3 separate regions of the Homo sapiens genome follow, and all the other regions are linked to region 1. The links come from fine-mapping of genetic effects on gene expression. A gene starts in region 1. Each other region holds a variant in brackets. All regions are shown on one strand. Distances are from middle to middle.

The links. PIP is the estimated chance that this variant, and not a neighbour inherited with it, causes the effect. A credible set is the group of variants that fine-mapping cannot tell apart.
Region 2: its variant is the best candidate, but not a certain one, in a credible set for the expression of CASC3 in whole blood (INTERVAL, PIP 0.86).
Region 3: its variant is the best candidate, but not a certain one, in a credible set for the expression of CASC3 in whole blood (INTERVAL, PIP 0.75).

Annotation. Positions count from the first base shown.
Region 1 is chr17:40,137,372-40,145,422 of GRCh38, forward strand. It overlaps CASC3 (CASC3 exon junction complex subunit), which reads left to right and starts at 3,166. Exons shown (of 14, transcript NM_007359.5): 1 at 3,166-3,408; 2 at 3,836-3,863; 3 at 4,199-4,236. The coding sequence starts at 3,178. RefSeq lists enhancers at 2,777-3,717, 3,183-3,482.
Region 2 is chr17:40,079,416-40,087,466 of GRCh38, forward strand. It overlaps THRA (thyroid hormone receptor alpha), which reads left to right. Exons shown (of 9, transcript NM_199334.5): 5 at 4,420-4,567; 6 at 5,195-5,400; 7 at 7,292-7,438. Among named protein-coding and RNA genes, the nearest start is that of NR1D1, 17 kb to the right of the region's middle. The variant C/G (reference allele first, on the strand shown) is at 4,958.
Region 3 is chr17:40,222,634-40,230,684 of GRCh38, forward strand. All of the region lies in intron 1 of WIPF2 (WAS/WASL interacting protein family member 2), which reads left to right. Among named protein-coding and RNA genes, the nearest start is that of WIPF2, 7.4 kb to the left of the region's middle. RefSeq lists an enhancer at 1,894-2,465. The variant G/A (reference allele first, on the strand shown) is at 4,949.

The sequences.
Region 1 (8,051 bases):
GTGGGTAGATCACCTGAGGTCAGAAGTTCGAAACCAGCTTGGCCAACACGGTGAAACCCTGTCTCTACTAAAAATAAAATAAATTAGCCAGGCTTGGTGACAGGCACCTGTAATCCCAGCTACTCGGGAGGCTGAGGCAGGAGAATTGCTTGAACCCAGGAGGCAGAGGTTGCAGTGAGCCGAGATCATGCCATTGCACTCCAGCCTGGGTGATAGAGGGAGACTCCAACTCCAAAAAAAAAAAAGTATAATTAGCAATTTTAGAAACGAGATTATAGGATACTTCGTAAGTTAACAAAATCTTATAGCTGGAAAGACATTAGAGGTCATCTAGTGTGACCCCGATATGTGATTTACCCTTGATAACACTCCAGACAAGCAAATTCCAGGCTGTGCTTCAACACTTTTTCTACATACATTTTTCCCCCTAAGTGTTTGAAAATTCTTGCTTGTTGACAAAAAATCTAACTTCTTGTAACTTAAACTCACTGGTTTTTGCTTTGCCTTCTAGGATGATGAAAAAAAGACCAATCCCTCCTTTCTTCATAGTCCCTAGTTAAAGATTGCTGTGGGCTCCAGGCCCGGCGCGGTGGCTCAGGCCTGTAATCCCAGCACTTTGGGAGGCCAAGGCGGGTGGATCACGAGGTCAGGAGTTCAAGAGCAGCCTGACCAACATGGTGAAACCCCGTCTCTACTAAAAATACAAAAATTAGCTGGGCGTGGTGGTGCGCGCCTGTAATCCCAGCTACACAGGAGGCTGAGGCAGGAGAATCGCTTGAACCTGAAAGGCGGAGGTTGCAGTGAGCCCAGATCGCACCACTCCACTCCAGCCTGGGCGACAGAGCGAGACTCCGTCCCCCTCAAAAAAAAAAAAAAAAACTGGACCCAGACTAAACAACTGAAGGACAAAGTGGCAGACTATCACTTTCCTTATTTAGACACTAAACTTGGCAGCCTTATTTGCACCAATTTAGTCTGTGATCGATAAGATCCTCCAGGTTCTTTTTCTTTAACACTTATTAAATCATATTATCCTCCATTTTGAACTCAGGCAGTTGGCTTTTGGAGCTGGACTTATAAGTTGTCACGTTTGGCCACTTGTCTAATTAGCTGAGATTGTTTGAATTTTCTTTTTTTCTTTTTTTTGAAACAGAATCTCTTTGTCTCCCAGGCTGGAGTGCAGTGGCGCGATCTCGGCTCACTGCAAGCTCCGCCTACCGGGTTCACGCCATTCTGCCTCAGCCTCCCGAATAGCTGGGACTACAGGCGCCTGCCACCACGCCCGTCTATTTTTTTTTATTTTTAGTAGAGACGGGGTTTCACCGTGTTAGCCAGGATGGTCTTGATCTCCTGACCTCGTGATCTGCCCGCCTCGGCCTCCCAAAGTGCTAGGATTACAGGCGTGAGCCACCGCGCCCGGCCTTGAATTTTCCTTTCATCTCTGAAGGCATTCATAATTACTTCCAGTTTCATGTTATCTATAAATTTGATAAACATCAGGATCCTTAACCATGTCATTTATAAAAATTTTACTCAGGAAAGGCCGGGCGCGGTGGCTCACGCCTGTAATCCCAGCACTTTGGGAGGCCAAGAACGGCGGATCACGAGGTCAGGAGATCGAGACCATCCTGGCTAACACGGTGAAACCTCATCTCTACTAAAAACATAAAAAGTTAGTCGGGCCTGGCGGCAGACACCTGTAGTCCCAGCTACTCGGGAGGCTGAGGCAGGAGAATGGCGTGAACCCGGGAGACGGAGCTTTCAGTGGGCCGAGATCACCCCACTGCACCCCAGCCTGGGCGACAGACAGAGTGAGACTCCCTCTCAAAAAAAAAAAAAATATTTTACTCAGGGAAGAATTCTATGCCATGGTGGCCTTTGTTTGATAACATACATTATTAACGTGCACTCCTGTAGGTGCACTAAAAACTTAGCTCATGCACTTTGTATATCCTTATAATGGTCCAAAGAAAACACACTGATTCTTTTCAATGGTGGCCAATGCCTTGCCAAAATGAAATAATTTCCATAAACCTTAAGAAGGAAATAATGTCAGGATTTTGAATCAACATCTGTTTCTACTGACCATTTATTTTTAAATAGGTTCTAAAATCCTGACAAGGGCAGTAGCTCATGCCTGTAGTCCCAGCACTTTGGGAGGCTGAGACGAAAGGATCGCTTGATCCCAGCCAGGAGACAAGCCTGGGCAAGAGCGAGACCCCATCTCTACAAAAAACAGAAAAATTAGCCGGGTGTGGTAGTGTGTGCCCGTTGTCCCAACTACTAAGGAAGCTAAGGCAAGGAGGTCACCTGTGCCTGGGAGGTCAAGGCTGCAGTGAGCCGCGCTACTGCACTCCAGCCTGGGCAACAGAGTGAGACCCTGCCTCGAAAAAGCCAAAACAAAACCGGTAATACTGGCATCATACCAGCCTGCACTTTGGGACAGGTGATGGCTGGGGTGGGAAGAAACGTGAAGAGGAAATGAGAACACAGAGAAAACGCTGCAACAAGAAGTCCTCTGGCTTCACTGCAGACAACTGGTTTCTCCTTCGCCCGTTATCTTAAACAAGGCTGGTGCAGCAAATCTGACGCAGCACTACAGCTTTTAAGATTTACCTTGATTCGTGATTTTACCAAGCAAAGGAATGCAGTAAATTGACCTGCTTCAAACGTAGGTAGAAGTGAGAAATGGAAACAGAAAACCATGAAACAGCCCTAGTGTTGCAGTGAAGCTGTGACAGGTTGACTCCTTCCACTCGGGAAGCCCAAGATGGCCGGGCCAGGAACCCGGGAGGCTGCTGAAGTCTCAATTCCCCTCGCCCTAGGCCTGCCCAAGGGAAGTCAGGAGCCGCGCCACGCCCCCTTACATCACCGATAGACGTAATCCGGGTCGGCCGCAAACGTGCCGCAGGCCTAGGCCCCGCCCAGTGCCCCGCCCCTCCCCCAACACACACACACACACACACACACACACACACCCCAACACACACACACACACCCCAACACACACACACACACACACACACACACACACACACACACACACACACACACACACAGCGGGATGGCCGAGCGCCGCACGCGTAGCACGCCGGGACTAGCTATCCAGCCTCCCAGCAGCCTCTGCGACGGGCGCGGTGCGTAAGTACCTCGCCGGTGGTGGCCGTTCTCCGTAAGATGGCGGACCGGCGGCGGCAGCGCGCTTCGCAAGACACCGAGGACGAGGAATCTGGTGCTTCGGGCTCCGACAGCGGCGGCTCCCCGTTGCGGGGAGGCGGGAGCTGCAGCGGTAGCGCCGGAGGCGGCGGCAGCGGCTCTCTGCCTTCACAGCGCGGAGGCCGAACCGGGGCCCTTCATCTGCGGCGGGTGGAGAGCGGGGGCGCCAAGAGTGCTGAGGAGTCGGAGTGTGTGAGTGCGCGCAGGCGGGGCGGGGTGGGGACCGGGCGGCGAGCCGGCCGGGGGCGGGGTGTAGGTGATGCTAGGTAGTCTGTGAGTTGATAGTAGATACTGGGACTTTTTTTTGTTTTTGAGAGAAAAGGGGAGTTATCCCAATGCGAGTTTGCATCCGGAGTTCCAAGGGAAGAAGAAGGATTGGGGGTTTCTGGGAGGATGGTAGAGCCGCTGGAGATGGAAAGCGGATGTTTTATTCAGAAGTCGGGGCTGGAGGGAAGGAGACCAGACCTGCCTTGGCTACTACTTGATAAAGATTTACCTATCTCTGTCTCCCTCTCCAACCATTTTGTGCTGAATCTTCAGCTTTTCACCCACATTTCTTTATTGGGCTCCCCACCTCTGGAAATCACAGAACTAACCCATGTCTTCTGCTTTCTTTCAGGAGAGTGAAGATGGCATTGAAGGTGATGGTGAGTAGCATCTTTTACCCCATTAGGACAAGAGTTTTTTTTAACATAAACTCAGGTCATCTATTTCCAACATCGACATTCTCACACACTGTCACGGATTTAGGGCCACAGAGTGCCTTTTTGTAACATAGTGGTTAAGAGCATAGGCTTTAGCAGTATAGTCTTCAGCAAGTTACCCTCTGAGCCTGTTTCTCCTTTTGTAAGTGGGGACTATAATTTTATCCACGTTGTAGGTTGATGTCAGAATTAAATGAGACTCTTAGTCTGACCTGTAATAAGCAGCCAAAAAATGTTTCTGGGTTTCTTTTTTTCCACATATTTCTGTTTTATTTCAGCTGTTCTCTCGGATTATGAAAGTGCAGAAGACTCGGAAGTGAGTATGACAGGTTTTTTCCTATGGTATAGATCAGAAATGCTTTTTAAAAACGTGTACACACCTTCGTTGCAAACGTACCATGACCTCCGTGTTTATCCTCTTGTGTATTCTTCATTTATGCTTCTGAAAAAGTGTTACAGAAGGTCTTGTTCACTTTAGACCTAGGGAAAACTTGGGGCACGCCGTCTCAAGCCACAGGTGTTATACTGTTAGTTGGCTTCTCTTCCTGTCTGAAGAATATGAGGTTCTAAATAAGAGAGTGAGGATATCTTGAAGTCCTCTGAAAGATGTTTGACAGTTTGTTTTATGCAGTGTAGGTTGAGAAGCCAGCCAATTGGTTATTTTTTTCCAAATCTATCTGAAGACTTTGAAAGGGTAGGATTCGGAATGTTTTGTGCCAAGAGCATCCATCATTTTATAGGTGGGGATTTTTCTGTTTTTAGGAGAAAGTTTCCTGTCTTTTGGATAAACTACTAGAGATGCCATCAGAGTAAGTGTTTGTTTCCTGGGTTGTTGAGTGGACTCCTGAGTTCTGGTAATGGGATTATATATAGGGGGAATTGGATGGTGGATCAAAGATTTTGTCTATACATTTTTAGAACTGTTACTACATTTTAGAATCTGTTAAGCCCTTGAGGATGGAATAGTGAACACTATAACAAAATTCCTATCTTTAGAGATCTTACAACTCAATAAGGAAGTCAGACAAACATTCAAGCAATTGTACCACTTGCTGATAGGGGATAGCACTGGGATAGGGCTAAGTAGGGTGTTACAGCTGGGTACTGAATCCATCTTAGGCAGTCGGGAAAGATTAAACAGTTGGCTGGGTAAGATGTGTTCTAGGCAGAGAGAACAACAGTCAAGAAAGCCCACAGGGGCCGGGAGCAGTGGCTCACGCCTGTAATCCCAGCACTTTGGAAGGCTGAGGCAGACGGATCACTTGAGGCCAGGAGTTTGAGACCAACGTGGCCAAAATGGTGAAACTCCATCTCTGGCCCGGCGCGGTGGCTCACGCCTATAATCCCAGCACTTTGTGAGGCCCAGGCGGGCGGATCACGAGGTCAGGAGATCGAAACCGTCCTGGCTAACATGGTGAAACCCCGTCCCTACTAAAAATACAAAAAAAAATAATAATAAATTAGCTGGGCGTGGTGGCGGGCGCCTGTAGTCCCAGCTACTCGGGAGGCTGAGGCAGGAAAATGGTGTGAATCCGGGAGGCGGAGCTTGCAGTGAGCTGAGATTGTGCCACTGCACTCCAGCCTGGGTGACAGAGCAAGACTCCGTCTCAAAAAAAAAAACCCATCTCTACTAAAAAATACAAAAATTAGCTTGGTGTGGTGATGCATGCCTGTAATCGCAGCTACTTGGGAGGCTGAGACACGAAAATCGTTTGATCCCAGGAGATGGAGGTGGCAGTGAGCTGAAATCATGCCACTGCACTGCTACCTGGGTGACAGAGTGAGACTCTGTCTCAAAAAAAAAAAAATAAATAAATAAAAGAAAGGCTGTAGGGGTACAAAAAGAATAGTAATTAGAATGAATAAGATCTAAACCCAGCGCGATGGCTCACACCTGTAATCCCAGCACTGTGGGAGGCCAAGGTGGGCCAGTCACTTGAGGCTAGGAGGTCAAGACCAGCCTGGCCAACATGGCAAAACTCCATCTCTACTAAAAATACAAAAATTAGCAGCTCATGGTCCCGCATGCCTGTAATTCCAGCTACTCAAGTGGCTGAGGCAGGAGAATCCCTTGAGCCTGGGAGGTGGAGGTGGCAGTGAGCCATAATCACACCACTGTACTCCAGCCTGGGCAACAGAGCAAGACTCTTGTCTCAGAAAATTTAAAAAATAAAAATGACTAAGATCTAGAATTTCATATTTGCAACATGGTGACTACAGTCAACCAGTAACTTATTGTACATTTAAAAATAACTATTGGCTGGGCACAGTGGCTCATGCCTGTAATCCCAGCACTTCGGGAGGCTGAGGTGGGTGGATAACAAGGTCAAGAGATTGAGACCATCCTGGCCAACATGGTGAAATCTCGTCTCTACTAAAAATACAAAAATTAGCTGGGCGTGCTTGCACGCCCCTGTAGTCCCAGCTACTCAGGAGGCTGAGGCAGGAGAATCGCTTGAATCCGGGAGGCAGAGGTTGCAGTGAGCCGAAATCAAGCCACTGCACTCCAGCCTGGTGACAGGGCAAGACTCCATCTCAAAAAAAAAGTATATATATATATTAATAAAAGAACGTAATTGAATTGTTTGTAACAAAGGATAAATGCTTGAGGCGATCCATACCCCATTTACCCTTACATGATTATTACACATTGTATATCTATATAAAAATATCTCATGGGCCGGGCTTGGTGGCTCACACCTGTAATCCCAGCACTTTGGGAGGCCGAGGCGGGTGAATCACCTGCGGTCAGGAGTTCGAGACTAGCCTGGCCAACATGGCGAAACCCATTTTCAGTCTCTACTGAAAATAAGAAAAATTAAGTAGGCGTGGTGGCAGGTGCCTGTAATCCCAGCGACTCAGGAGGCTGAGGCAGGAGAATCACTTGAACCCAGGAGGTGGAGGTTGCAGTGAGCCAAGATTGTGCCATTGCACTTCATCCTGGGCAACAAGAGGGAAACTCTGTCTCAAAAAACAAAAACAAAAACAAAACTCATGTACTACATAAATATATACCTACTGTGTACTCAACAAAAATTAAAAACTTTCTTTTTCTTTTTTTTTTTTTGCTTGAGATGGAGTCTTGCTCTGTAACCCAGGCAAGAGTGCAGTGGCATGATCTTAGCTCGCTGCAACCTCCACCTCCCGGGTTCAAGCGATTCTCCTGTCTCAGCTTCCCAAGTAGCTGGGATTACAGGTGCACACCACCACACCCAGCTAATTTTTGTATTTGTAGTAGAGACGGGGTTTTACCATGTTGGCCAGGCTGGTCATGAACTCGTGAACTCAGGTGATCCGTCCGCCTCAGCTTCCCAAAGTACCGGGATTACAGGTGGATTACGGGTGTGAGCCACTGTGCCCAGCCCTCTTTTTTTTTTTTTTTTTTTTTTAAAAAAGAGGCAGGGTCTCACTCTGTTGCCCAGTCACCCAGGCTGGAGTGCAGTTGTGGGGTCACAGCTCACTGCAACCTCAAACTGCTGGGTTCAACCAGTCCTCCTGCCTTGACCTCCTGAAGTGCTGAGATTACAAGCATGAGCCACCATACCCAGCCAAAAAAAAAAAAAAATTAAGTTTTTTTTTTTTTTATTGAGATGGAGTATTGCTCTGTTACCCAGGCTGGAGTGCAATGGCTCGATCTCAGCTCACTGCAACCTCTGCCTCCTGGGTTCAAGCGATTCTCCTGCCTCAGCCTCCCGAGTAGCTGGGATTATAGGCGCATGCCACCACGCCCGCCTAATTTTTGTGTTTTTAGTAGAGATGGGGTTTCACCATGTTGGTCAAGCTGGTCTCGAACTCCTGACCTCAGGTGACCCACCCACCTCGGCCTCCCAAGGTGCTGGGATTACAGGCATGAGCCACCGTGCCCCCCATTTTTTTTGTTTTGTTTTGTTTTGTTTTTTAAGACGGAGTCTCATTCCGTTGCCAGGCTGGAGTGCGGTGGTGCAATCTCGGCTCACTGCAGCCTCCGCCCCGCCTGGTTCAAGTGATTTCTCCTGCCTCAGCCTCCCGAGTAGCTGGGACTACAGGTGTGCACCACCACGCTCAGCTAATTTTTGTATTTTTAGTAGAGACGGGGTTCCACCATGTTGGCCAGGATGGTCTCCATCTCTTGACGTCGTGATCCACCCACCT
Region 2 (8,051 bases), 58 kb before region 1:
TGTATTTTTAGTAGAGATAGGGTTTCACCATGTTAGCCAGGCTGGTCTCGAACTCCTGACCTCAGGTGATCTGCCTGCCTCTGCATCCCAAAGTGCTTAAGAGGCCTAATTAGATTTCACTTTGATCATTTCAGCCTGGATAGCCTTTCCAGGATCACCTCCTAAAAATGCAAGGCCTTCCAAGAAACAGAATTATTTAAATCCCAGCACTTTGGGAGTCCAAGGCAGGCAGATCACCTGAGGTTACCACACCCGGTGGCACTGTTTTAAACACTTCAAGTGAATTGTCTCATTTAATTCTCCCAACAGTGCTATAAGGTAGATAAAATGATTATCCCCATTTTATAGATGAAGAAACTGAGACTCAGAGAAGTTAGGCAATTTTCTTGTGAGTGACAGAGGAGGGATTATGAATGAGCAAATGAACGAATGAGTAAGGTCAGGAATTTGAGACCATCCTGGCCAACATGGTAAAAGCCTGTCTCTACTAAAAATACCAAAATTGGCCAGGTGTAGTGATGTACGCCTGTAATCCCACCTACTTGGGAGGCTGAGGCAGGAGAATCTCTTGAACTTGGGAGATGGAGGTTACAGTGAGAGTGGAGATTAAGTCAGTGTACTCCAGCCTGGGTGACAGAGCGACAGAGTGATACTCTGTCTCAAAATAAAAAAAAAAAGAAACAGAATGATTTATATGTTAAAGGCCAGGTATAGTAGCTCACGCCTGTAATCCAAACACTTTAGGAGGCCAAGGTGGGAGGATTGCTTGAGCCCAGGAGTTTAAGAACAGCCTGGGCAACATAGTGAGACCCTGTCCATACAAAAAAATTTTTAAAGTAGCCAGGCATGGTGGTGCACACACACCTGTGGTCCCAGCTACTCAGGCAGCTGAGGTAGGACGATCACTTGAGGCTGGGAGGTCGAAGCTGCTGTGAGCTGTGATTAAGCCATTGCACTCCAGCCTGGGCGACAGAACAAGACCCTGTCTTAAAAACAAAAAACAAACAAAAAAAAAAAACGGAAAAAAAGTTTAAGGCTTGAAGTTTCTCTCTCTTTCTTGATGTCAACCAAACCAAGACCATGAGGGATTTAGAGTTCCCTAGCAGAAGCAATACAATCCTTCTGGAAGCAATACAAACAGTGTAGCATAGAGAAAGGATCTTTTACTCTCACGGACATCTGAGTCCCAGGGAAGCACCCTGAAAAGACAGAGATGCCTTGGCCCCACCCTTGGATAGTTTTATTTTGTAGTTCTGGAGTGAGGCCCAGGAATCTGTATCTTTGGTAGGTGCCTTTGGTGACTTTTTTTTTTTTTTTTTTTTTTCAAGACGGAGTCTCACTCTGTCACCCAGGCTGGAGTGCAGTGGCGCGATCTTGGCTCACTGCAACCTCTGCCTCCCAGGTTCAAGCACTTGTCCTGCCTCAGCCTCCTGAGTAGCTGGGATTACAGGTGCCTGCCACCTCACCTGGCTAATTTTTTGTATTTTTAGTAGAGACAAGGTTTCACGATGTTGGCCACGTTGGTCTTGAACTCCTGACCTCGTGATCCACCCACCTCAGCCTCCCAAAGAGCTGGGATTACAGGCGTGAGCCACCGCACTCGGCTGCCTTTGGTGATTTTAATGCCCCTGGAATCTGAGAGCTCAGACGTTGGTGTCCCATACCTGAGGCCCAGTTCTGACTCTGCTGCCCACCGGCCACATGACTTTGGGCAAATTGCTTCATCTCACCAAGCTTCAGTTTCCTTGTCTGCAAAGTGGAGGCAGTAACAGTTCCTACCTCATAGGGTTGTCTGGAGGGTTCACTGTGATGTTCCATGAAAGACAAGGCTTATCTTTTGGGTTTTTGTTTTTGTTTGTAATGGGGTCTCTGTCACCCAGGTTGGAGTGCAGTGGTGCGATCATAGCTCACTGCAGCCTTGACCTCCTGGTCTCAAGCAATCCTAAGCAATCCTCCCACCTCAGCCTCCAGAGTAGCTGGGATTATAGGTGCACGCCACAACCCCTGGCCAATTTGTGTATTTTTAGTAGAGATGGGGTTTTGCTATGTTGGACAGGCTGGTCTTGATCTTGAACTCCTGGCCTCAAGTGATCTGCCTGCCTCAGCCTCCCAGAGTGCTGGGATTACAGGTGTGAGTCATTGCACCTGGCCAGCAAGGCTTATGTTTACTAAGTGACTGACACATTGTAAACATGAAAAAATACTAATTCTTCATATTATTGCAATCATCTTGAGTTTTGAGGTGTTTCCTTTAAAATAAAGGCGAGGCTGGGTGCGGTGGCTCACGCCTGTAATCCCAGCACTTTGGGAGGCCGAGGTGGGCAGATCACCTGAGGTCAGGAGTTCGAGACCAGCCTGGCCAACATGGTGAAACCCCATCTCTATAAAAATACAAAAATTAGCCGGGCGTAATGGTGGGCACCTGTAGTCCCAGCTACTCGGGAGGCTGAGGCAGGAGAATTGCTTGTACCTGGGAGGTGGAGGTTGCAGTAAGCTGAGATCACACCACTGCACTCCAGCCTGGGTGACAGAGTGAAACTTCATCTCAAAAAGAAAAAAAAAATTAAATTAAAAAAATAAAATAAAGGTGAATCCCAATGTAGAGAATTGAAATTTTTCTCTTCCCCTACTAGAGTTCATACTCAGTCCCTTTCCTTGACTTTTTTGGTTCCCCTGTTTTATGAATTCCACCTGCATGGACAACAGGCAACATATATGAGAATGGTTTTTGGGTCAGTGTTGTTTTTAAAGTCATTTAGCAAAATGGAAAATGAGGTTTTACTTGGATTTCCTTTTTTTTTTTTTTTTTTTTTTTTGAGACAGAGTTTTGCTCTTGTTGCCCAGACTAGAGTGCAATGGCACAATCTTGGCTCACCGCAACCTCTGCTTCCTGGGTTCAAGCAATTCTTCTGCCTCAGCCTCCCAAGTAGCTGGGATTACAGGCATGTGCCACCATTCCCGGCTAATTTTTTCTTTTTTTTTTCTTTTTTGAGATGAAGTCTCACTCTTGTCACCCAGGCTGGAGTGCAATGCGAGCTCCACCTCCTGGGTTCAAGCGATTCTCCTGCCTCAGCCTCCCGAGTAGCTGGGATTACAGGGGCAGGCCCAGCTAATTTTTATATTTTTAGTAGAGATGGGGTTTCACCATGTTGGCCAGGCTGGTCTTGAACTCCTGACTTCAGGCAGTCTGCCCGCCTGGGCCTCCCAAAGTGCTGGGATTACAGGCATGAGCCACCGCGCCCGGCCAAGGGGTGGACCCCGCCGTGGTTCCACCGCGGCTCAAACCTAGGACCTTCTGCATGTAAAGCAGATGTGATAACTGCTACACTATAGAATCGCATGCTTTTTTTTTTTTTTTTTTTTTTTTTTGAGATGGAGTCTCATTCTGTCACCCAGGCTGGAATGCAGTGGCGCGATCTTGGCTCACTGCAACCTCTGTGTCCTGGGTTCAAGCAATTCTCTGCCTCAGCCTCCTGAGTAGCTGGGATTACAGGCGCCCACCACCACGCCCGGGTAATTTTTTTTTTTTTTATACGGAGTCTTGCTCTGTCACCCAGCCTGGAGTGCAGTGGCGCGATCTTGGCTCGTGGCAAGCTCCACCTCCTGGGTTCACGCCATTCTCCTGCCTCAGCCTCCCGAGTAGCTGGGACTACAGCGCCCACCACCATGCCCGGCTATTTTTTTTGTATTTTTAGTAGAGACAGGGTTTCACCGTGTTAGCCAGGATGGTCTCGATCTCCTGACCTTGTGATCCGCCTGCCTCAGCCTCCCAAAGTGCTGGGATTACAGGCATAAGCCACCGCGCCCGGCCTACGCCCAATTTTTATACTTTTAGTAGAGACAGGGTTTCACCATGTTGGCCAGGGTGATCTTGAACTCCTGACCTCATGATTCATCCGCCTTGGCCTCCCAAAGTTCTGGGATTATAGGCATGAGCCACTGCACCCAACCTCATGCCCGGCTAATTTTCTATTTTTAGTAGAGACAGGGTTTCTTCATGTTGGTCAGGCTGGTCTCGAACTCCCGACCTCAGTTGATCTGCCCACCTCGGCCTCCCAAAGTGTTGGGATTACATGCGTGCGCCACCGCGCCCGGCGACTTGGATTTCCAAAGCTGCTATTCCTTAAGGCCTCACATTATCCCAGGTTCAAAGCTGCCTGCTCTAGACATCATTCCTGCCTCTGCCACAAACACTACCCAGACACCCCCAACCCCTCAGCAGCCTGGGGGCTGAGGGCATATATTTCTCAGGTCCTTGAGCCTAGTAATCTTGGGCTCATGGTGTCAGGAGGATGCCAGGTCCCCTCACTGATCTTGCCTTCCTTGCTCTCCACCCCTGACCCCTAGTAAACTGCATGGTTGGTTCAGGAAGGGGAAGCCATGTCATGATCACAGCCTGCTCCATCTCCCCCACCCCAGGGCTTCTTTCGCCGCACAATCCAGAAGAACCTCCATCCCACCTATTCCTGCAAATATGACAGCTGCTGTGTCATTGACAAGATCACCCGCAATCAGTGCCAGCTGTGCCGCTTCAAGAAGTGCATCGCCGTGGGCATGGCCATGGACTGTAAGGGGCCCAGGTGGAGGGAATAGAGCCAGGTGGCCTGGGGTGGGGATGAGTTCTGGGAGGGCAGCTTCCTTCCAGGGTACCCTCAGAGCCCACAGGGCAGAGTGGCAATCCAGTCTAGGTCAGAATGTTCAGTGTCTTGGTCCTTGCTGTCCTCCTTCCTGCGCAAAAGGAAACAGGATCCCTGTGTGGGCCCCAATGCCTACCTGCCTTACAACACTCGAGGGCCTTAGAGAGGGAGTCGTTTGGTAGAAAGAGCTCCTGGGCACCCACTCTAGCACACTGTTCTTGACTCCCAGCGAAGGCACCCCACTTCTAGATGAGACAGGGCATCTTCCATTGGCTGGGGATTGGGTGGCAGGATATTCGAGTAACCACCGTCACCATAAT[C/G]CGTTAGACCAGAACATGATATTCATCTGGATCAGCCCAAACTGTTGTTGACATGGTCCCGGGGATTAATCATGATCCGGGTTGTGCTGCCCAACTGCTAGGTGATTTGGGAAGTCATTTAGCCTCCATGGCCCTCGGTTTCTCCAACCTGTACTCTAGGAAGAGTAGTTTCCGGGAGCATTATGGAAAGGGGATGGAGGGTGCCATGCGTTAGACCTTGTGCCTCTCTGTTCACAGTGGTTCTAGATGACTCGAAGCGGGTGGCCAAGCGTAAGCTGATTGAGCAGAACCGGGAGCGGCGGCGGAAGGAGGAGATGATCCGATCACTGCAGCAGCGACCAGAGCCCACTCCTGAAGAGTGGGATCTGATCCACATTGCCACAGAGGCCCATCGCAGCACCAATGCCCAGGGCAGCCATTGGAAACAGAGGCGGAAATTCCTGGTAAGGAGAAAGGGGGCATGGGGAGAGCAGTAGCCAGGTGGCAGGGAGAAGAGAGTGAGCTCGGAGTCTTGCCTCCTCCAGGAAGTCTTCTTAGTGTAATCCAACCCAAAATACATACTCTTCACACTTTTGCTGTCCAGATTTTATACACTTGTGTTTGTGTCCTTGCTGTCTGGACTGTCTACTCCATCCAACTGGGAGCTCAATGAGGACAGGGCCTTGCCTTCCTCATCGAATTTCCAGGGAGCGGGAGCGACCTTTCTTCTTTTTCCTGCCCTTAGTGACTGGGAGGAGAGGGTAAGGATACAGTTATGTCACAGTATTTTTGAGCACCTGCTGGGTGCCAGGCATTATGTTAGGCCCTGGTCAAGCTAGTTGCTAAGTAAATGATGAGTTTGGGACCAGGTGCAGTGGCTCATGCCTGTAATCCCAGCAATTTGTGAGACCAAGGTGGGAGGATCGCTTGAGCCCAGGAGTTTGAGACCAGTCTGGGTAACATACAGAGATCCCACCTCTATGAATAATTTTTTTTTTTTTTGATACGGAGTCTCACTCTCACCCAGGCTAGAGTGCAGTGGCACGATCTCGGCTCACCGCAACCTCCGCCTCCTGGGTTCAAGCGATTCTCCCGCCTCCGTCTCCCGAGTAGTTGGGATTACAGGCACTGGCCACCATGCCTGGCTAATTTTTGTGTTTTTAGTAGAGACAGGGTTTCACCATGTTGACCAGGCTGGTCTCGAACTCCTGACCTCAAGTGATCCACCCGCCTCGGCCTCCCAAAGTGCTGTGATTACAAGATGTGAGCCACCATGCCCACCCTCTATGAATAATTTTTTTTTTTTTTTGAGTTGGAGTTTCGCTCTTGTTGTCCAGGCTGGAGTGCAGTGGCACAGTCTTGGCTCACCGCAACCTCTACCTCCCGGCTTCAAGCGATTCTCCTGCCTCAGCTTCCCAAATAGCTGGGATTACAGGCGTGCGCCACCACGCCCGGCTAATTTTGTATTTTTAGTAGAGACGGTGTTTCTCCATGTTGGTCAGGCTTGTCTGAACTCGCAACCTCAGGTGATCTGCCTGCCTTGGCCTCCCAAAGTGCTGGGATTACAGGTGTGAGCTACTGCTCCCGGCCTCTCTACGAATAATTTTAAAATTAGCTGGGCATGGGGGTGTGTGCCTGTGGTCCCAGCTACTCGGGAGGCTGAGGCAGGAGGATCCCCTAAGCCTGGGAGGTCGAGGCTGCAGTAAGCCATGATTACACCGCTGCACTCCAGCCCAGGCAACAGAGCAAGACCCTCTCTCAAAAAATATGATCAGTTTGGGAGGAGATGGACAGTTGGCTATACGTGGTGAAGGAAGGCAGAAAACCAGCACCTGGTTCATGGTGGAGCATGCCGGGGGGTGGCACAGTGCACACTGTTAAGGGCACGGGCTCTGATTCCAAGCAGATGTGTAACAGTCACGAGTCAGACTGCCCAAGTTCAAACCCTGGTCCTACCACTTGCTGGTCATATGACTTTAACCTTATTATTTAGCTGCCCCATGCCTCAGTTTCCACATCTGTGAAATGGTGATTATTATAATTATTCCTTTTAGGATTATGGTCAGGATGAAATAAGACATGTAAAACATGTAGCCTGATGCCTGATCATATATTAAGTATTCAGTCATTATAGCTGCTACTACTGTTACTACCGTTGTTATTATTAGCTGACTTGGAGCTCTGGTTCTGGTCTATTCTCTGCTCAAGATGAAGGAAAAGCTTTGGGCCTGGGACTCAGGCACGGGCGGCCCCTCTTCCCCAAGCTGCCTTGGAGCTCCCCCTGGTGGGCAGGGAGCCTCAGTGAGAGGCTGAAAGGGGTCTGCGGCCCCAGCTGACCCCCGTCTTTCTCTCTAGCCCGATGACATTGGCCAGTCACCCATTGTCTCCATGCCGGACGGAGACAAGGTGGACCTGGAAGCCTTCAGCGAGTTTACCAAGATCATCACCCCGGCCATCACCCGTGTGGTGGACTTTGCCAAAAAACTGCCCATGTTCTCCGAGGTGAGTGGCAGAAGTGGGGAGAGATGTGATGCTGTGCTGGAGGGAAACCTGCTCCCCCGGTCACCCAGTACAGGCTCATCTGAGGTTCTCTGGACAAGGAGCAATTCCTGTAGGTCAACATACACAGATAACATACACAGACACACACACACACATGCATACACATACACCCAGCACACAGGCACACATGCAGACACATACACGGACACACACACACACCTAGCATACAGATACGTACACAGACACACATACACACACACATACACCCAGCACACAGACACACACACACCTAGTACACAAACACACACACAGATACATAGAAACACACACAGACATATACACCCAGCACACAGACACACACACACACACAGACACACACCCAGCACACAGGCACACACACACACACACCTAGCACACAGCCACACAGATACATAGACACACACACACAGATACAGACACACACACACACACAGACATATACACCTAGCACACAGACACACAGATACATAGACACACACCTAGCACACAGACACACACACACAGACACACCCAGCACACAGGCACACACACACACACACACCTAGCAGACACACACATAGATACATACAGACAC
Region 3 (8,051 bases), 85 kb after region 1:
TTTGATTTGATGCATATTCAGTTTTTTTTTTTTTTTTTTTTTTTTTTTTTTTTTGAGACAGAGTTTCGCTCCTGCTGCCCAGGCTGGAGTGGAATGGCGCAGTCTTGGCTCACTGCAACCTCCGCCTGCCGGATTCAAGCGCTTCTCCTGCCTCAGTCCCCCAAGTAACTGGTACTATAGGCATGCACCACCACGCCCAGCTAATTTTTTGTATTTTAGTAGAGATGGGGTTTCACCATGTTGGTCAGGCTGGTCTCGAACTCCTGACTTCAGGTGATCCACCCACCTCGGCCTCCCAAAGTGTTGAGATTACAGGCATGAGCTACCACACCTGGCCGCATGTTTAGTTTTTTAACTCTTATTAATGTCAACTTTTAAAAGTAAAAATTTCATATTGTGTTACATTGGTTGCCATCAAGATGAAGATAGGGAAGTTAAGAGTTGGGGAAGGTGGAGATGAATGAAGTCAATTGATGAAGACTAGTAGAATGTAGTGTTTGTTTTTTTATTTGTTTATTTATTTATTTTGAGACAGAGTCTTGCTGTATTGCCCAGGCTGGAGTGCAATGGCACAATCTTGGCTCACTGCAACCTCTGTCTCCTGGGTTCAAGCAATTCTCCTGGCTCAGCCTCCCAAGTAGCTGGGATTACAGGCATGTGCCACCTGGCTAATTTTTGTATTTTTAGTAGAGACAGGGTTTTGCCATGTTGGCCAGGCTGGTCATTTACTAATTCCACCTCACACTTGATACTAGAGTAGTGTTTACCCTAGCTGGTACTGATAAGTTATGTGATAGCACCAAGGTGAAATGCAGGAGAGGTGTGAACATTGGAGTTTTCAGGTTTTACTGATGGCTTTTACGAAGGGAAGAGATTCTAGACTCACTAGGTGTTTTTAGGAAAAAAAAAAGGCAAGAGGCAAGAGACAGAAGTCTTGTTCTGTTGAAGAGAAAATTTTTTTTTGGGTTTTTTTTTTTTTTTTTTGAGACGGAGTCTCGCTCAGTTGCCCAGGCTGGAGTGCAATGGCATGATCTCTGCTCACTGCAACCTCCACCTCCCAGGTTCAAGCGATTCTCCTGCCTCAGCCTCCTGAGTAGCTGGGTGCCATCACGCCTGGCTAATTTTTGTATTTTTGTAGAGACGAGGTTTCACTGTGTTGGTCAGGCTGGTCTCGAACTTCTGACCTTGTGATCTGCCAGTCTCGGCCTCCCAAAGTGCTGGGATTACAGGCGTGAGCCACCGCGCCCGGCCCGAGAAAATTATTAAATGTTCTTTCTTTACTTGTGTTCTCTGATTGGGAGAGTAACCTGGTATATGTTAGTCTGTTTTCCTGCTCTGAAATAACTGTGAAATTCATGGGCTCTTGGTTCAGGCAGCTTCAGCAAACATAGTCTTCTTACAACCCCAGGAAGAGTTGCAGGCTACAAAATATATGTACTTATTTGGGAGTAAAAACCTGCTTAATATTATGCTATTGCAACCTACAGTGTACCTTTTTGGTTTGTTTTTTAAGGGGATTTTGAGATAACATATGGAGGCTCGGTGCTCCTGGGCGGACTTTTGGTACAGCCTGCTTATTTTTTTTTTCTTTTCTTTTCTTTTTTTTTTTTTTTTTTGAGACGGAGTCTCACTTTGTCCCCCAGGCTGGAGTGCAGTGGCGCAATCTCGGCTCACTGCAAGCTCCGCCTCCCAGGTTCACGCCATTCTCCTGCCTCAGCCTCCTGAGGAGCTGGACTACAGGCGCCTGCCACCACGCCCGGCTGATTTTTTGTATTTTTTTTTTTTTTTTTTTTGTAGTAGAGACGGGGTTTCAACTTGTTAGCGAGGATGTCTTGATCTCCTGACCTTGTGATCCACCCGCCTCGGCCTCCCAAAGTGCTGAAATTACGGGCGTGAGCCACCGCGCCCGGCCCAGCCTGCTTCTTTAACATAATGATTTTCCATTTTTCCTATCCTGTCACAGTTTTCCGTTGCTCTGCTTGAGCCAGTCCTATGTAGAAAGTGGCAAATTACACATTTTTTCTCCCCTTTTAGTCTCTGGTGGACATCTTGTCTGTGTCACAGTTTGATACTACCAAATTGAAAGGATTCTTCACTGCTTCAGATGGGGAGGGTGACAGAAGCTGAGCTGTTTCCTGGGTCAGATAATGGCCTCTGTCAAAGCAAAGAATAGTTGTAGAGACACAAACTGGGCCCTTGAAGCTGTGACTAACATTTTGGCAACATGCATCCCTTTGCCAAATAACTTCTTTTCTTCTTGAGTGTGATTGTTGATCTCCTTCTCAAAGTAGGCTCTTGTTGCTACTATTCTTCACACAACTCCCAAGCAAAAGTTGGCAGAGTTCCGGTTGACTGACTGTGTCTTGAGGGATATGCCCCGGATTAGAGTGGATGGGGCGTTCCATGTCAAAATGAGGTTCATTGGCAGATCCTGAGAGCTGCTTTGCAAAGAAATAGAGGCAGTACTCTTTACTGAATGTTCTTGCGGTCCTTTATCTTTCTTCTAAATTCAAGTCTGTTTCTTATTCATCTAGTGATTAAATGCAGAATCATTGCCTTTGCCTAGCTTCGTGGGCATTGTGGAAGAGAAGACAGTATTTCCAACTTTTTTTTTTTTTTTCTTTTCTCACAAGCCATTGAGCCTGAGGAACTACAGGCTAAATTTATGAGCATTTCTTGATATCTACAGAGGGCTACTAAAAAAAAAATGCTGAATAGACCTTTATGGGGAACAACAATGTTAATAGGAAAAAAAGGTGATATGTTTGCTAATGTCTATGTCAGTCTTAACTCTCTTTAAGATTTTGGCTCATTTTGGCTTAAGAGCCTGCAGAAGTATGTAAGTTATCAAATAGGGGAGCCAGGAATTGGTTTCTTCCTTGCCATTTAAGCTTGGCAAAGTTAGAGCAATTTGGAATGGCTATCCAACAATGTGTTCTACTTAGTAAATACTCTCTTGTTTTTCAGGGGATAGTTAGCTAAAGGTAGGGTTATCTCCAATATGTTTTGGGATGGATCGTGAAGATCATTCCCTTTTTATTTTGAGACAGGATCTCTCTCTCTTGCCCAGGCTGGAGTGTGGCGGCGTGATCTGTAGCCTCGACCTCCCCAGGCTCAGGCTCAGGTGTTCTTCCCACTTCAGCCTCCTGTGTAGCTGGGACTACAGGCGCACGCCACTATGCCTCACTAATTTTTATTTTTTGTAGAGATGGGGTTTCGCCATGTTGCCCAGCCTGGTCTTGAACTTTTGCCGGCCTCCCAAAGTGCTGGGATTATAGGTGTGAGCCACCAGGCTCAGCCATTATAATTGATTTTCAAAAAAAATTTAGTTTCTTAAGCTTCATGGATTCAAATTGAGTGCCATTTGGATTTTGAGGCCCCTCAGTGGAAATAATTTGTTTTTAGCAAGTAATTATGATATTTCTAAAGTGCAAATTCACTGACCTACTTTCTGTGCTTCTGGAAATGCTGAATCGAATAATCTTTTTTTTTCCTCCCAATAATCCCTCTGACTGTGAAAACATTCTCCATATGTATTCAGATTGGGATAGTTGGTAAAAAAAAAAAAAAAAAAATTTTTTTTTTTTTGAGATGGAGTCTCGTTCTGTCGGCCAGTCTGGAGTGCAGTGGTGCGATCCCAGCTCACTGCAACCTCCACCTCCCGGGTTCATGCGATTATCCTGCCTCAGCCTCCCGAGTAGCTGGGATTACAGGCGCACACCACCACACCCGGCTAATTTAATTTTTTTTTTTTTGTATTTTTAGTAGAGACGGGATTTCACTATGTTGGCCAGACTGGTCTCGAACTCCTGACCTCGCGATCCGCCCACCTTGGCCTCCCAAAGTGCTGGGATTACAGGCATGAGCCACTGTGCCCGGCCTTTGGAATTTTCTTCTAAGGTAGTACACTAGTATGAGATGCGATGTCTGAGATTTGTGGATAAGTGGACTTTTCCTTCTTCCATTCCTGCCCTCCCAGTGCTCACCTAGTAGGGAGGATGTTTATTATCTAAGATCCAGATGTGAGACATTTAAACTGCTTCTTTCCTTGTCTTAGAAATAAGAACAGAACTGTTTTTAGCAAATTTTATTTTTTTAATTTTTTAAATTTATTATTATTATTTTTGAGACTGAGTCTTGCTCTGTTGCCCAGGCTGGAGTGCAATGGCACAATCTCGGCTCACTGCAGCCTCTGCCTCCTGAGTTCAAGCGATTCTGCTGCCTTAGCCTCCTGAGTAGCTGAGATTACAGGTGCACGCCACCATGCCCAACTAATTTTTGTATTTTTTAGTAGAGGTGGGGTTTCACCTTGTTGCCCAGGCTGGTCTTGAACTCCTGACCTAGTGATCTTTCCGCCTCAGCCTCCCAAAGTGCTGGGATTACAGGCGTGAGCCACCACGCCCAGCCTATTTATTTATTTTTTTTTGAGACAGAGTTTCACTGTGTCAGCCAGGCTGGAGTGGAGTGGCAAGATCTGGGCTCACTGCAAGCTCTGCCTCCCAGGCTCAAGCAATCTCCTGCCTCACCGTGTCAAGTAGCTGAGATTACAGGTGTGTGCCACCACGTCCAGCTAATTTTTGTATTTTTAGTAGAGACGGGGTTTCACCATGTTGGCCAGGCTGGTCTCAAACTCCTGACCTCGTGATCTGCCTGCCTCGGCCTTCCAAAGTGCTGGGATTACAGGTGTGAGTCACTGCTCCTGGCCACAAATGTTATATTTTAAATAAATAATACAAAATTTAAAAGATAAAAAAGTATATAAGCAGGATGGTGGCCATGGAAGTCAGAATCCACTAAGGAGTATGTATCAACTCACCTGCCAAGAAAAAGAAAGTATATAGTGAATACCCTTGGAAACATCTATGTTTGTCTTCCTATCAATCCAGTTCATCTTCCCAGAGGCAACTCGTATTATTATTTTCTTTAGATCTGTTCCAGGCTGGTTGCG[G/A]TGGCTCACACCTGTAATCCCAGCACTTTGGGAGGCTGAGGCGGGCGGATCACCTGAGGTCAGAAGTTGGAGACCAGCCTGGCCAACATGGTGAAACCCTGTCTCTATTAAGAATATAAAAATTAGCGGGGCATGGTGGTGTGTGCCTGTAGTCCCAGTTACTCGGGAGGCTGAGGCACAAGAATCACTTGAACCTGGGAGGCGGAATGGTGAGCTAAAATTGTGCCACTGCACTCCAGCCTGGGTGACAGAGCAAGACTTTGTCTCAAAACAAAACAAAAAACAAAAAAAGTTTGTTCCAGAGATACCAGGTACATATAAAGCAAATATGTATATTTCTTGTTTTTTTTTTTGTTGTTGTTGTTTTAATAAATGTAGCACACTGTTAATACTATCTGTATCTTTTGCTTGTTTTTATACCTCTTTTTGTTTTTTTTTTTTTTTTTTTTTTTGAGACGGAGTCTCGCTCTGTCGCCCAGGCTGGAGTGCAGTGGCGGGATCTCGGCTCACTGCAAGCTCCGCCTCCCGGGTTCACGCCATTCTCCTGCCTCAGCCTCCCAAGTAGCTGGGACTACAGGCGCCCGCCACTACGCCCGGCTAATTTTTTGTATTTTTAGTAGAGACGGGGTTTCACCGTTTTAGCCGGGATGGTCTCGATCTCCTGACCTCGTGATCCGCCCGCCTCGGCCTCCCAAAGTGCTGGGATTACAGGCGTGAGCCACCGCGCCCGGCCATTTTTATACCTCTTTTGACTGTTACTCCCTATCAGCAATAAAGATACTTGGCACCTACCTTACACTGATAGACATACACAGTTTCCAGTCTTTTGCTATTACAAACTATGCTGCAGTGAAGAAGCATATATATTTGGCTCTTTGCATATATGACTGTGTCTGTAGGGTAAATTCTTAGAACTAGAATTGCTGAAGCTGATTTTTTTTGATGTTCGTTATTCATTTATTCAACAAGAATTTTTGAGTTCCTACTGTGTGCCAAGTACTGTGGTAGGGGATGCAGGGGATGCAGATAGGGCAGTGAACAAATTTTCTTGGTCTTTTTTTTTTTGAGACAGAGTCTCTCTCTGTCACCCAGGCGGGAATTTAGTGGTGCAAACATGGTTCATTGTAGCCTCAACCTTCTGGGCTCAAGCAGTCCTCCCACCTCAGCCTCCTGTGTAGCTGGGACCACAGGTGTGTGCACAATTTTTAAAATTTTTTGTAGACGTGAGGTCTCACTTTGTTGCCTAGGCTGGTCTTGAACTCGGGCTTAAGCAGTCCTCCTATCTCGAAGTGCCATAATTACAGGCATGAGCCACCACACCTGGCCCTGACTTGGTCTTCCACTTACGGTGGAAGACTTTTTTTTTTTAGACAAGGTTTCATTCCCATCTTGGCTCACTGCGACCTCCACCTCCTGGGCTCAAGTGATTCTCTTGCCTTAGCCTCCTAAATAGCTGGGACTGCAGATGCATGCCACCATGGCTAATTTTTGTAGTTTTTGTAGAGGTGGGGCTTTGCCAAGTTGCCCAGGCTGGTCTTTTTTTTTTTTTAGATGAGTTTTGTTCTTGTTGCCCAGGCTGGAGTGCAATGGCATGATCTCAACTCACCGCAACCTCTGCCTCCCGGGTTCAAGCGATTCTCCTGCCTCAGCTTCCCGAGTAGCTAGGATTACAGGCATGCATCACCACGCCCGGCTAATTTTGTATTTTTAGTAGAGACGGGGTTTCTCCTTATTAGGCTGGTCTCGAACTCCTGACCTCAGGTGATCCGCCCACCTCGGCGTCCCAAAGTGCTGGGATAACAGGTGTGAGCCGCCGCACCTGGCCAAAGACATTTATTCATTTATTTATTTATTTGTTTTAGACAGAGTCTAGCTCTATTAGCCAGGCTGGAGTGCAGTGGCATGATCTTGGCTCACCGCAACCTCTGCCTCCCAGGTTCAAGCCATTCTGCTGTAGCCTCCCAAGTAGCTGGGACTACAGGTGCACCACCATGTCTGGCTAATTTTTTCTGTATTTTTAGTAGAGATGGGGTTTCACCATGTTGGCCAGGCTGGCCTCAAAACTCCTAACCTCAAGTGATCTTCCTGCCTCGGCCTCCTAAAGTGCTGGGATTGTAGGTGTGAGCCACCGTGCCTGGCCCAAAGACATTTATTAAACAAATAATTATTACTGTTGCTGTAAATGCTGTGGAGACAGCTAATGGTTAGCCCATCCCAGGTTGATTGAGAGGAAGGGCAGTCAGAGAAGGTCTCTGAGGAATTGACTTTTAAGGGTGAAACCTAAGAATGAAGGGAGGACAAAAGACTGACCTAGGTAGAGGAGATGGCACAGGTGAATGTCCTGAGGAGGGAAAGAATGTTTGTATTTTGAGGAATTGAAAGAGGTTCCAGTGTGGCTGGAGCTTAGGGAGTGAAAAACAGACAGGTAGGAGGCAAGGCTTCAGAATGTGAGCTGTCCTAAAAAATGGGTAAATAGGCTGGCATGGTGGCTCATGCCTGTAATACCAACACTTTGGGAGACCAAGGTGGGAGGATCACTTGAGCCTAGAAGTTCACAACCAATCTGGGCAACATAGGGAGACCCCCCAGTCTCTATATAATTAAAATATTAGCTGGGCATGGTGATGAGCACCCGTGGTTCTAGCCGCTCAGGAGGCTGAGGGAGGAGGATCACTTGAGCCCCAGGAGAGGGAGGTTGCAGTGAGCTGTTGCAGCACCACTGCACTCCAACCTCGGAGACAGAGTGAGACCCTGTTTCAAAAAACAACAACTAAAAGAGTAATAGGATAGTGAATTTTGAGGTCAGCTTCTAAAATAGGGCTTTTTTTTTTCCTGTCAGTTCTTTTACTAGTGTTGATGATGAGACCATCAGTGTCATAAAGAAGTCTGATGCTTGTGCAGTGAAACAGTTTTTATAAGAACTTTCCTGGATGAAACCTATTCTTTTAGTCTTGATTTCTCATAGGTCCTGCAAATCAAACTTGGTTGGCTGGATTAGCTCTTAAAATTTTAGGATCTTAGAAATTGTTTTGGAGATTAGGCTTATTGGGGAACAATTTTTAGATTATGGGGGATGATGGGATTGTTAGTTTACCAGACTTGC